4 separate regions of the Homo sapiens genome follow, and all the other regions are reported to be linked to region 1. The links are microRNA targets in miRTarBase. Many come from high-throughput screens and were not tested one by one. Region 1 holds a microRNA gene; each other region holds the end of a gene's coding sequence.

Region 1 (3,148 bases):
CTAACAGTTCTAGCACTTTCTAAGAAGGAAGTGGATATTGGTTGTTTCTGAGCGTGACAGCTGGGGCTTGACACCCGGAAGTCACCAGGATATTGGTTGGGTGGTGTCAACCCTTCGTGTCTCGTCTCCCCACCTATAAAGTCAGGACTCTGGCCTGTCCCCTCTGGACTGCGGGAACCAGTGGGGGAATTCTGGTACTTGAGCCCAGGACTGTGCCTGGCTCACTGCATGTGTCCCAGGTTTTGTCCTGGTAACTACCAGCATCAAGTCCTCCCAGCTCCTCTCTGTAGGAGGGAACCTACCCACCTACCCCCAGTGCACAGAGGAGGAGCTGGAGGCTGTGTCAGGTGCAGGGCCAGCTGGCCAGTCCCCATGGTCCCTGGGATGGCACAGCCACCAACTCAGTCCAGGCAACCTCAGTGGAGAGGCTGGGGTTGCCTGAGGCCCCTGGAGCCGCCCTGCCTGGCTCTCTTCCCCTTGGGTTTGGGGGAATGCTCTGTAGGAGTGCCCCCCACTGGGGACTTGCTGGCACCCAACCCAGCCCCAGGATAGGCAGGACTGGGCTTGGAAGTCCCAGACTTAGAGAGAAGGCAGGCTGGGGGGCCCCGGCTGGCCCCAGGGAGAAGCAAAGAGAGGCGGGCCTCTTGGCTATGGACCCCTGCTCTGTGCTGGGCTCATTGGCTAAGAGAGCCCACTGAGGCCACACCTGAGGAGAACCCTACTCCCCGTGAGGAAACCCTCACGCTTGCTATTCGGGTGGCTCTGTGGTCACCCCCATCTAAGGCTCTGAGCGGTGACTTGCCCCACATCATGGAGCGGGGGAGGGTCCCCCTGGGGTGGAGGCTTCCCCAGTGCACGTCTGCGGGCCCATGCTCCCTGACCTGAGGGACACCCCAGCCCGACATCCGAACACCTCCGCTGCAGCCCAGGCCTGATGTCCCCTTGACTGAGGACATTGGGGGTGAAAGGATCATCCCGCTCCACATGAGGCCAGACGCTCATCTCTGGAATGTTCCTGAAACCTCAGGAGCCCTGAGGCTTCTGCGGGACTCTGGGGCGCTGTTTCTAAACCCAGGGTGGTGGAGTCTGCTGAGCCACCATACAAGCATTTCTGGGGTCCCTGTGGAAGCTTCCAGAACCTCAGATCCAGCGAACCTCATGGGGTTGGGATGTGGGAGGAGTGTGGAGCCAGGCGTGGTCTGCAGCCTTCTCCCCGCCTCAGGCACCTCTAGGAACTCACGTGTCCAGATCGGATGGCTCCTCAAAATGGCTGGGGTGGGGTAGGGTGCCCTTTCTCTTTTTCTCCCCTCTTTCCGCCTTGCAGTGAGAAACCAGCCTGCGCTGTGGTGTGTGGGCTGTCAGGCCGGCTGAGAGCTGGTGCCCTGCCTTTCAGTTCAGGGCTGTGGGGACCTTCCAGGGTCCCCTGGGTGGGAATGCCAGGCCTGGGGCAGCGAGCCTTGGAGGAGCCTCTGGGCCTGAACCTCAGCCTGGCAGCTCTCTGCCTGGCAGCATTGCAAGTCTAGTTTTCAGATCTCCTCTTCCTTCACGTGAGGGGCCCTTCGTGTTTTTCTCATCTGAGAGTTGAAAGCCAGAGCCCCCGACCCTCCCGTGGAGCCCCACACTGGAGTCTGGAGCAGCAGTGGGAGAAGGGCCGGGCGCCGGCCGTAATGAGAAACAGCCGACCTGTGAAAGGGGCCCTGTGTGAGCCCCAGACACAAAGCAGGCTCCATTCAGGAGGGGGCAGCCATGGAACCTGACCCCCGCCACCACCCAAGTTAGGATCCCAGCAGGGACCCTTGGAGTCACACACGTGGCAGCCACCCCTGAGGAGGAGGCCACCCTCTTAGATGCCTCAGTGAGACACAAGACATCAATATCTCTTTATTTAAAAAATAAACAAGACATTTACAGCCATGGGGTGGGGATGGCAGACTGATAGGGCCAGGGCCTCCAACCCCTCGGCCGGCCTCGGGGCTCCCTCTGCCTTTCCCCAGTGCCTCTTCTCCCACCCAGGCCCTCGAATCTTCTATGCGAGGCTCTGCCACAGTGGGAAACGGGGTGGTGGAAAATGACACTCACCTGCCGGCGAGTTTGGGGGGCCTGTCTCGACGAGCCGCTCACCCAAGCCCAGCCTAACCAATGTGCAGACTACTGTACACATTGAGAGCCTCCTGAACAGGTAGTCTGAACACTGGGTTGGCGGGGCCGGCTATCCATCCTGCAGAACCCCCCAGGCAGACGCTGGGGCCACCAGGCCAGGCCGTGCCTCAGCACCTCTGAGCAGCCAAGGAAACCACCACTCTTCCCGAGACGATCCGCTCTGTCCCTTCTGACGTGGCAAGGCTGGGGCCGGCTCGCATCTGGAGAAAGTTCTGGGTTTTCAGGAAATCCTAAAGAGTGGGGGAGGCGGAGCAGGAGGCAGGGTTTGGGATCGTGGCTTCTGGGCTCAGGAGGAATGTCTGACTCTTTGGGGGTCGGGGGTGGGGAGGAGGGGCGCACACACACGTGTGTGTGTGTGTGTGCGCGCGCGCGCACGCGTGCGTGCCGGCAGCACCAGGAAGGCGGCCACTGATTTCTCGGCGGAATCGCACTGTAAACAGTTCCAGATGTGGCATTAGCTGGAATGGCCTGTGACTCAGTTACTTGGCCCTGCTGGCTGGAAGCTTCCGGCCGCGTGATATGATAGGGTCAGGGCAGCAAAGGCCCTTGGGCAAACGTCCGAGCCGGGGGCAGGGCTTCTGCAGAGCCCCCTCCCCTAGCCCCTTCTAAAGCCCCCAAAACTCTTCCCCGAAAGGTGGGAGGGACCCAGGCCCTGTGTTACCCAGCCTTGCCTGGGATGACGGGTGCAGGCTTTCTTCATCACCTTCCCTCCCTTGGGTCCGCAGCGGCATCCCTCCCTCCATGGCCACCGGGCCCCTCTCCTATGCTCTGCTCCCTCCATGGCCACCGGGCCCCTCTCCTATGCTCTGCTCCCTCCATGGCCACCGGGCCCCTCTTCCTATGCTCTGCCCTACTTCTTTGCCTAGAGCCTGGCAGGCTAATCCTGGAGCCGCTCACAAGAGCAACCAAAGAAAATCCCGGGTGCTCATGGGCACCAGCTCTGCAGTGGGCACCAAGCTCCTCCATCCTCCTTGGATAGATGAGGAAA
Region 2 (3,000 bases), not on the chromosome of region 1:
AAAAGAGAAGACATATTCTCATTTCAAAGCAATTTATGTTAGTAATAACTGAGCAAAATGATAGAATTTTTTAGTTGTGTGTTTTCAGAAGTAATGTCAAATTTACTTCAGATAATTTAAAAGGTTTTTTGCATATTAAATGGTTAATAAAGTGGTGTTATTATACTAAAGAAAAAATGCAAAACCTTTTTTACAGAATAGTATAAATGTTTATTTTCTGTATGATTTACTTTGCTGTCCTGTTTTTACAATATAGAAAAGTGTATTCTTTGAATAGCTCTAGTAAATATAAATTTAATCTTTCTACTTTGGGATGTAAATAGAGCTAAAAAATTATATACCCAACCCTCCCCAAATAGTCTTTTAAAATCATTGAATTAATGTGGCTATTCATCTTGTTCAGCAATTTGATGCAAATGCCTGAATACAAAAAGTTATTTAGTAAGTACTACACAGGAAGGAAAAGGCTTAATATTTTAGATAGATAGATTTTTGAAAATCAGAAAAACTAGTAGCATTTGATTGCACCTTGAAATTTTTTTACAAGCAAAACATTCGTAAGCAATGCCATCATACATAATCTACAATTGTAATCAAAATTTCACGAACATTTTCTGCACACTGTATATAAATACACATCACAAAGGTGCAATTAGAATTAACACAGAGTATGTACAAAATGAACAAAGTTTAAGTTTAGACCAAAAACTTATTGCAATCTTTTGAAAAATAACTTGATTATTATTTTACCCTCTTACACTAATTTACATTTATACAAATTTTAATTAAACATACTAGATTGAGGTGCTAAGAATGTTTGAACTATCTACATTTAAAGTTACTGCACTATGATTTTATAAATCCAAATTTAAAAGGAAGATACTTTAGTGAATAACGGAATCCTCTTTTGGATTACTTAATTTCTATTGCCTATATCTTGCATGTTCATATGAACATATATACACACTTAATACATACAACTATAGAGTCCTTGTAGGAAATGAAATAATCATATACTAATTACTGATGATTAAGGTACCTAACAAAATGCCTGAATTCCAACATGGTTTTTTCTTGTCATAAAATCAAGAGTCCTGTCACAACAGGCTCTTAAATTCATAGAGTTTTTGAATACTGAAAATGATTTAGGTTATTTTAGTAATTATAGGAAAACAGACCTTCCAAATCACTGGCTGAAAATAATGCCATATTAAACTTCCCTTATAAAAAGAAATCCCACCACAATTTTGAAAATTTTGTTAGGAGGCCCATTTCTGTAAATCAAGTAAGAGTTGCGATTTGGTTTGAAACCTCTTAGTTCAAAAGTCTATAAAAAGGGCCTGGCACGGCGGCTTATGCCTGTAATCCCAGCACTTTGGGAGGCCGAGGCGGGCGAATCACGAGGTCAGGAGATCGAGACCATCCTGGCTAACACGGTGAAACCCCGTCTCTACTAAAAATACAAAAAATGAGCCGGGCATGGTGGCATGCACCTGTAGTCCCAGCTACACGGGAGGCTGAGGCAGGAGAATCGCTTGAACCTGGGAGGCAGAGGCGTTGCAGTGAGCTGAGATCTCACCATTGCACTCCAGCCTGGGCTACACAGCGAGACTCCGTCTCAAAAAAAAAAAAAAAAAAGTCTGTAAAAATAATTGATTGTATAGATGAAAACTTCTCTAAATTCATCTTTTGCAGCTTCCCTATTCTTTGTTTCTCCACCCATGCCAAATTTTATACTTGATTACTATGTGAGGTTCTATATTATCACTACATAATGTTTACTTCCATTTATATCCACCTATCATTTTAATAGTACCCAGTAATCACTTTGACAATTTATTACTTCAAATACATACCACCTCTTTGAAAGAAAATGGAGACAGCCCAGAGCATCTGTTAGCCTTTCCTTATTATAGAAACACATTGCCCATCCTCTGAGATTTACTGTCCTTTAATATTTTATATGTTTTTTTAAATAACTTTAAAAAATTTTTAGTGTGCCTGGGGATTGTTTCCCCTTCTGACATTCCCAAAGTGACAACAGGATATTATTCCAGAATCGGCCCTAAAAGGCTGCTTTTTCTTTAAAAGATAGTCCTTTTCTAAATACAAAATGTCATTTGAATGTGTTTCATAAGAATTTGTTTATGTAACATTCTGTCTGCAGATATTCTAGATCAAGTCCCAAAGAATGGGTGCTAACCACTGCTGCTTTGGCTTTTCTATTAACAAAGTCATACAACACCATACATTATAAATTATATGAATTTATAAACATTTTTTGTCAAAGGTATCAGAAAGAGAACATCTAATTCTTAAGAAACCCAAGCAAATTAAAAAATCTATATAATAAAGAAAAATTCAATTTAGAAGGGGCATAAGCAGATTTAACTAAGATTTAAAATGTACTAATTTCCTCATTTAAAATTTCTTCTCCTTCAGTATTATAATTTCAGGTCTTTTAAAACAAGGACTGAATTAAAATACAGTAATTGTTTTTCTTCCAGAAAATCAAGTGTCCCTGCACCTTAAATTTTCTGTACAGTTCCATTTATCAGTCTTTTGTGCAAGAGTTAGCAATTCATGGCACAAGGGTCACTTTTTGCCTTTCCTGCAGAGTTGATGACACTCATCAAACATCGTCCGAATTCCTCAAGTATCATCCGTTCCGCTGCTGCCTTTGATTTTCCCTTCTTGTCTGCCTGCTCTGCCTGGGCAAGGAGGCAATTACATGTGGCTTCAGCTACTTCCTTAGTTACAAATGTAAATGGCAATCTGAAATGATTTTTGAAAGAGAAAGATGATGGTGGTGTTAAATAACAACAAAAGTGGATAACATTCTTTCATCTGGAAATCTCTACTGACACTTTCACAATTCACCAGCAGGATGAGCATCACAATTTACACAGTGAGCACAAGCACATCCTAAAAAGGGCTTTAAAAAGTTAAATTTGGTTTTATTCACATATTGTAAGAATATTGTTCAGGAAATTTAACATA
Region 3 (3,000 bases), not on the chromosome of region 1:
AATGGGTAAAGGGAGGTAAAGTTAACTGAATGGCCTTATTCATCATACACATTCAAGTTTTATCACAGTTGTAAGGTCTGGTAAATTTTTGAGTAGTGCTTCTCAAGCAAGGGGAGTGGGGAGAGGTACATCCCATTAGGAATGTGCCACCCTCCCCACCATAGTCTTTTTTGAGACAATGCCATGGTGAGCAATTGTTACCAATGGGAATGTGTCACATGTCTTAAATGTAGTGAGACACTTTTTAAAAATTAAGACCCACTCCAGTGAGGTCTTCAGCTGACCCCCTGCCAACCTTTTAGACTTTCTGAGATGGCTTGGATGAAATTATACTCACATTAGACATCTAATGCCTATTATTTAATACTTAATGATAATTAATATATTTGAACCCCTTCTCATTTTGCATAGGAAGCTTTCAAATCAGTGTTCTGCAAACTGTCGTAAAATTCTGATTTATAACACTGTCCCCAAAAGTATATAATGGGACTAAAGTTTACCAAACTTATAAAAATGTTATGAAACACTGGATCTTATTTTGTTGATTTAACATTTCATTTCCATCATTAAGCATGTGAAAAAGCAACATAAGCAAAGATTAAATAATCTAAAAATCCTTCAAATTGGTCACTCATTATTTCAGTACTTACTGAGCTAAACATTATTTTGTTACCTATAAAGGAGAGAATGTAAAACACTGTATGTCTTTGGCATTACTAGAAAGGGGTATTTAAACTTTGTACCTTTTTTTGCCATAAAATTGAAGTTACAGTAAGATGAAATGGAAGCTCACAAGCCCTGTTGGTGTGGAATTCCACTAATAATGTCAGATTGTTGCCAGAAAAACAAATTTTGTCATGCAGCTTGCAATTAATGTACCAAAAATTTACCAGCCCATATAATTTTATCAGTCTGCCTTCCCCAGAGGAAGTAAACAGATAATAAAACTAACGAAATCATATTTCTTGACCACTCTCATCCAATATAAATTGTTACTTGTCCTTCGAGTATTAGACAGTGAGCTGTTTACAAGGCCATTCAAATGTCTGGGCTAGTTAATGGTAGAGGCAGTAGTCTAAAATATGGAGTATTCCTGAGTCAGCAAAGAGGATCCTGCATTGTGAGGAAGCCCCCCTAAGTCATTACCAAGTGCAGATCTGGGTTTGATGGGCCTCTGTCAAAAGTTGTTTTGCATCCGCATTTCTGTGTTCCCTGAAAACACCATGAAATACTGAACTTTAATCAGTAATGCAACAAATGAGAAAATGCTCAGTGTTTTAGAACTATTCAGAGTAGAAAACGCTGGAACATAAAATGAGGTTACGCCTTAGTTGGTGAGTTGCTAAAACTTGAGATCAGGCGAAACAAAGCTGATAGGTCTAATGCCTTTTGGAACATGTAACACCAGCAGTTCTTCAAGTTTGGCCTCTGGCCCTCCTGTATTAGAATCATCTGGGAGACTTGCTCCAGTGCAGATCTCCTCTACAAAACCTACATTTAACCTAGTGAAGCAGAACCCCCTGGTTTTCCCTAGGAGTCTGCATTTGTCACAAGCTTACTGGATGTTTCTGATTCACAGTAAAGCTTGAGAACACTATATGTGACCACCCCACTGGCAAGGTGATTAACTTCTTATGCATATGGATACTAAATTTTGCAACATATTTGAAATGCTGAAGCAATATCAAATGTATGACATCCCCAAATATAGCAATTTCCATTGGTTTAAAAGGTGGCATATGAGCACAACCAATTGGGATTAACTCAGTCAACTCTTATGGTTTAACACATTTTACCTGCACTGAAAAATACTTTGCAGATCAAACTGGCAACCAGAAAACAGAACATAACAGAACACATGACACCCCGCTGTGGACTTTTAAGAAAAAAACTGACAAACTCCAAATCCATAATGACATGAGAACTTACACTTTGAAGGCAGAATGGACTTGTGGGAAGAGAGGACTCCCCTTCTGTTCTCCCTTCACTAGGTGGAGAAGGGAAGAAGGGCTCTCCCCAGACAGCTCTCTTCATTCTGGAATGTTTTGCCAGTCCCCAAGGCACTCAGTGACCAACTTTCTTTCACAGGTCCTCCCAGTGACTGACCTGGCTCATTCTCCGAAAGTGGTTGACAGGCCACTACGAGAGCTCTTGAGAGAAGCTTTGTGACATGAAATTCATCAAATGAAGCAAGATTCATTTTTAAAGAATAATACAAAGCTCCAGAGTAATATGCTTAATCCAAATGTTTAAATAGAATTTAAAACCACATTTTAAGTAAATTTAAAATTAATGAAATATCAATAGTTTGCCTTAACAAGGACTTGCTTGAACCATATTCTCCTTTTAAAATCACACACACAGAATCAGTGTACATTTAGAGAAATTTCCCCAGCTGAATAACATTTTTGACATGAATTCATTCAAAAGACACCAACCATTATGAATATTTTAGGCCATGATAAGCTGTAACCACCTCCGGCTTATGGTGGTTAGGATGTTGCAGCTTAATGTTGACATCTGGCATGAAAAGCTTATGGTCTGAGTCATGTTTCTTTTTTATGTAATTCTGGCTTGGGAATCCGATACAGAGCAGCTGAGAAATAAATTATGTTGCTGAGGCTGAAGATGATGCACAGAAGTATGGCTCCAGCTATCTGAGAGAAAGAGAAGGGCTTGGAGGTGGCCAGGAGCCATTCCTTCCTCAGAGTCTTGTCCAGAAGTATGGCTTCCATCTGCATGTGCGTGGCCAGGATCACACACACGTGAAACAGCTGGTGACTGTGACCTATGGCAAACACAAAAGGCCGTCAAGATCAGCAATGAAAAGGAATGAGTACTGATACATGCTATGGCATTCATGCTAAAAATGATGCTAAGTGAAAGAAACCAGACAGGAGACCACATATTATATAAAATCTCCAGAATATGCAAATCCATAAAGACAGAGAGTAGATTAGAGGCTGCCTCAAGCAGGGGGTGAGAATAGGTATTAACAGT
Region 4 (3,000 bases), not on the chromosome of region 1:
TTACTGTGAGACTCAAGCTCAGGGCTCCCACTTGCGGACCCTTCTGTCCTGCTGCAGGAGGATTTTCAGGCCCTGTGAGAATGAGGGAAGCCAGTTTGGCTCTGGGAGAGGGCATCTCAGCTGAGCTAGCTTGGGAACCCAAGCTTTGATTTGGCCTCAGTCTGACTATCTAAGAAAAGGTACGGTGCTGGGCTCAGCTGCCTCCTTGGCTTGGAGAAGGGCTAATGCTGACCAATCCATCCAGCTCAGGCCCCCAAATACCAACAAGACTCTGTACTCTGAAGACAATTGTTTCCTTGCTTCTCTTTTGAGACTGGGGAGGCAGGGTCGTGAGCATTGGCACAGATCTCAGTTCCCGGGAAAGTGCCCTTCAGACTCAGCCCAGGTGTCAAGCTTGCTTTACTCCCAGCCCTGAATCTCAATAGGCTGGGAGTGGACAAAGTCAGCCCTTATCCAAGAAGATGACCATTCCAGGGCTTGGGCCTCCATTTACTAATCTGTAAAACATTAAAAACCCCTGCCGCCACCCACCCCTCACAGGGTGGCTATTAGGAGGATGTGCTAAGAAAATGGGTGTGAGGGCTTTCCTCACACTGGTCTGGGCACCTTCTTCACTGTTCTCACTATCCATTTCCAAATGCACTTCTAATCCAAGTTTATCCATTTTGGGGAACAAATCACTCAGTTCTACCAAAGAGAGATGGGTCTTCCAAGTCATCGTAAAGTTTAGGACCCTCTATTGGAATCCCTGATGTAAATGCAGATTCCTGGGGCCCTGGCCCGGATGCACTGAGAATCTCCAGGAGGGCCCATGTGATCTGATTACACACGCTCAAGTGCAAGAGCCACTGTTTTAGTCTTGAGCAAACAAGGCCTGTCTGGGACCAGGAAGAGAAACAAGGGAGATAAAAACTCTCCAAATGCCAGTTGGTGTGGGTGGATGTAATTCCAGGGAAGAAGGGGGAAAGGCCCTGGGCTTCATCTGGCCCAACTCCAATTTGCCAATTTTTCTGACAAGGAACTTAGGGCCCAGAATGCACAATGCATCTTTTGTTTTTAGAGACAGGGTCTTGCTGTCACCCAGGCTGCAGCCTTGAACTCCTGGACTCAAGCAATCCTCTGGCTTCAGCATCCCAAGTGGCTGGGACAACAGGTCACAGAGGACGTCTGGGTGACCCAAGGTATCGTTAAGGTAGGCCTGCTATTTCCTTGCTCTCTAAGCCCTTAGCACTCCTTCCCTCACCTGTGTGTGTGCAAGGAGTTCTGCACCTGCCTGGTCCAGACTTCCTTCCAGTGGCAGCTCATGCCCCTCTTGGTTCCTTGTCCAGTGAGAGGCATGAGCTAAGTAGCATTTTTCAAACTCCCCCTCTTAGTCTTTTTAAATCCAGAGATAAGATTTGTAATTTTCATGATGGTAGAACAACTGATTTTTTTCTCCCAGAAAGAAAAAAGGTATTTTCTAGTTCTTTCACTGTTTATTAAAGACCTTGGGCTCAGTGGGCCCTCCTGTCTGGGCCTTCTAACCGGGGCAGCCAGGTGAGCTCTCCCTCTGGAGACTCTGGCTCGGTGGGAGGTCTGACTCACCCCCTACCTTCAGGGGTTTCCAGTGTGTTCTCCTAGTAGCTTCAGCCAGCACAGGGCCAAGGGTTCTTGGCACAGATGGCACACGGTACACATACCTCTGTCACCAGGCTGGCAGGCAGTCCCGGAAAGGGATGGAGGAACACACAGGTGGACCCCAGGGCCTGATGAGACCTGCCTTTCACTAGCACCCATCTCCCTCCTTTTCACTTCATGGTACTGATGAGAGACTCAACCAACTGTTTTAACAAACATGTTTATTAGAAAAGTAAAAAATATTGCATAGGTCTTAATACTTGAACATCAAGTGTATTCATGAACAGTGAGTATCTTATCTTCATGTAAACAGTTCTAGATGGAAGACCCAGATGGCACTCCTCCCGGGGAGGGGTTCCAGCCCCCACCCTCTCAGCCCCTCCCCTGCCAGCTCAACTCTGCAGTACACGATGGGGGAAGGCTTAAACGCAGCTGCCAGGTGTAATTTTTCAAGTGTCAAAGATCCCAAGTGATCCCTGACACCCACCCCTTCCTACTCTTACATTCATGCGTCTGTAAGATAGCTGCCTACAACAGGTCAGTAGTGATGCTCCGATCAGAAAAACAAGATACAAAACAAACAACAAACACACTTGGTCCCTTCAGACCAGTAAGATACACAAACCACCTCCACGACCTCCGACCTCCCCCCTCCCTCCGGCTGCTCTGAGGAGCACGTGCCTCTTCCTTCACCCTGGGCCGGGCTGGGGCGGGAGCAGCCCAGCTGCTCTCTGGATGTCACACCACTGTTAACTGTCAGTAACAAAAATAATAAGGTACATGCTACACACACATCCAGCTGGAAGCCTTGTTGGCCCCTAAGCCTTTGTTTCATGCTACAGTACTGAGGGGTATGTGTCCCCAATGCACAGCCACCCGCACACAACTCAATGAGCTTCCTGGGAAACACTATTCCCCCACCTCCACCTTAGGTGGCTGCCTCAGTTTTCCAACCACAGGAATCAGTCCCTCAGCTCCTGCCTCTAGTCTCCACCCCAAAAGTTCAGTCGTCTCTGTCTTGGAGGGCACTGTCGGCCCCCTCAGGTTGAAGTTCAACACTCCTCAATGAGCAGCTGTTCCGAGCTGTACAGCTTCTTCTTGATGACTCGGAAGCCAGTGCTCAGCGTCAGGGACTGGCTGAAGCCAGGGAGGAAGGGAGAGTTGGCGGAGCTAAACAGCCCCTGGATCTTGGGCCAGAGTCGTGAGTCCAGGCGCAGCACGAGGGTCAGCTGGAAGGTGGGCACCAGGCTGGGGTCGAGTGCCAGCTGGCCCACGCTGTGGCAGCTCTTGCCCTGCTCCACGCAGACGTCCAGCAGCGCCCCCCGCAGGCCGCACGGCTCGCTGTAGGCCAGGCGCAGTAGTTCTTTGCCCACCTGGCTTACC

The links. Region 1 holds the annotated microRNA hsa-miR-199b-3p (ACAGUAGUCUGCACAUUGGUUA, at 2,134-2,155, opposite strand). A microRNA usually pairs through its seed, bases 2 to 8, with sites in the 3' UTR of a target mRNA and lowers its output. Matches are read on the target gene's strand: a 7mer-m8 pairs with bases 2 to 8, a 7mer-A1 pairs with bases 2 to 7 and ends in A, and an 8mer does both.
Region 2: the mRNA of LIN54 is a reported target of hsa-miR-199b-3p. The part of its 3' UTR that is shown has no 7-base or 8-base seed match.
Region 3: miRTarBase lists PAQR5 as a target of hsa-miR-199b-3p. Seed matches in the 3' UTR shown: 7mer-m8 at 1,069-1,075.
Region 4: the mRNA of DDIT4 is a reported target of hsa-miR-199b-3p. Seed matches in the 3' UTR shown: 8mer at 2,156-2,163.

What each region holds. Positions count from the first base shown.
Region 1 is chr19:10,815,296-10,818,443 of GRCh38, forward strand. It overlaps MIR199A1 (microRNA 199a-1), which reads right to left and starts at 2,201; the gene lies at 2,131-2,201. All of the region lies in intron 15 of DNM2 (dynamin 2), which reads left to right.
Region 2 is chr4:82,925,529-82,928,528 of GRCh38, forward strand. It overlaps LIN54 (lin-54 DREAM MuvB core complex component), which reads right to left. Exons shown (of 13, transcript NM_194282.4): 13 at 1-2,775. The coding sequence ends at 2,574. Among named protein-coding and RNA genes, the nearest start is that of THAP9-AS1, 26 kb to the left of the region's middle.
Region 3 is chr15:69,403,369-69,406,368 of GRCh38, reverse strand. It overlaps PAQR5 (progestin and adipoQ receptor family member 5), which reads right to left. Exons shown (of 9, transcript NM_017705.4): 9 at 1-2,788. The coding sequence ends at 2,547. All of the region lies in intron 1 of KIF23-AS1 (KIF23 and PAQR5 antisense RNA 1), which reads left to right. Among named protein-coding and RNA genes, the nearest start is that of KIF23, 9.5 kb to the left of the region's middle.
Region 4 is chr10:72,274,858-72,277,857 of GRCh38, reverse strand. DDIT4 (DNA damage inducible transcript 4) reads right to left here. Exons shown (of 3, transcript NM_019058.4): 3 at 1,822-3,000. The coding sequence ends at 2,670. Among named protein-coding and RNA genes, the nearest start is that of DDIT4, 2.4 kb to the right of the region's middle. RefSeq lists an enhancer at 1,768-2,291.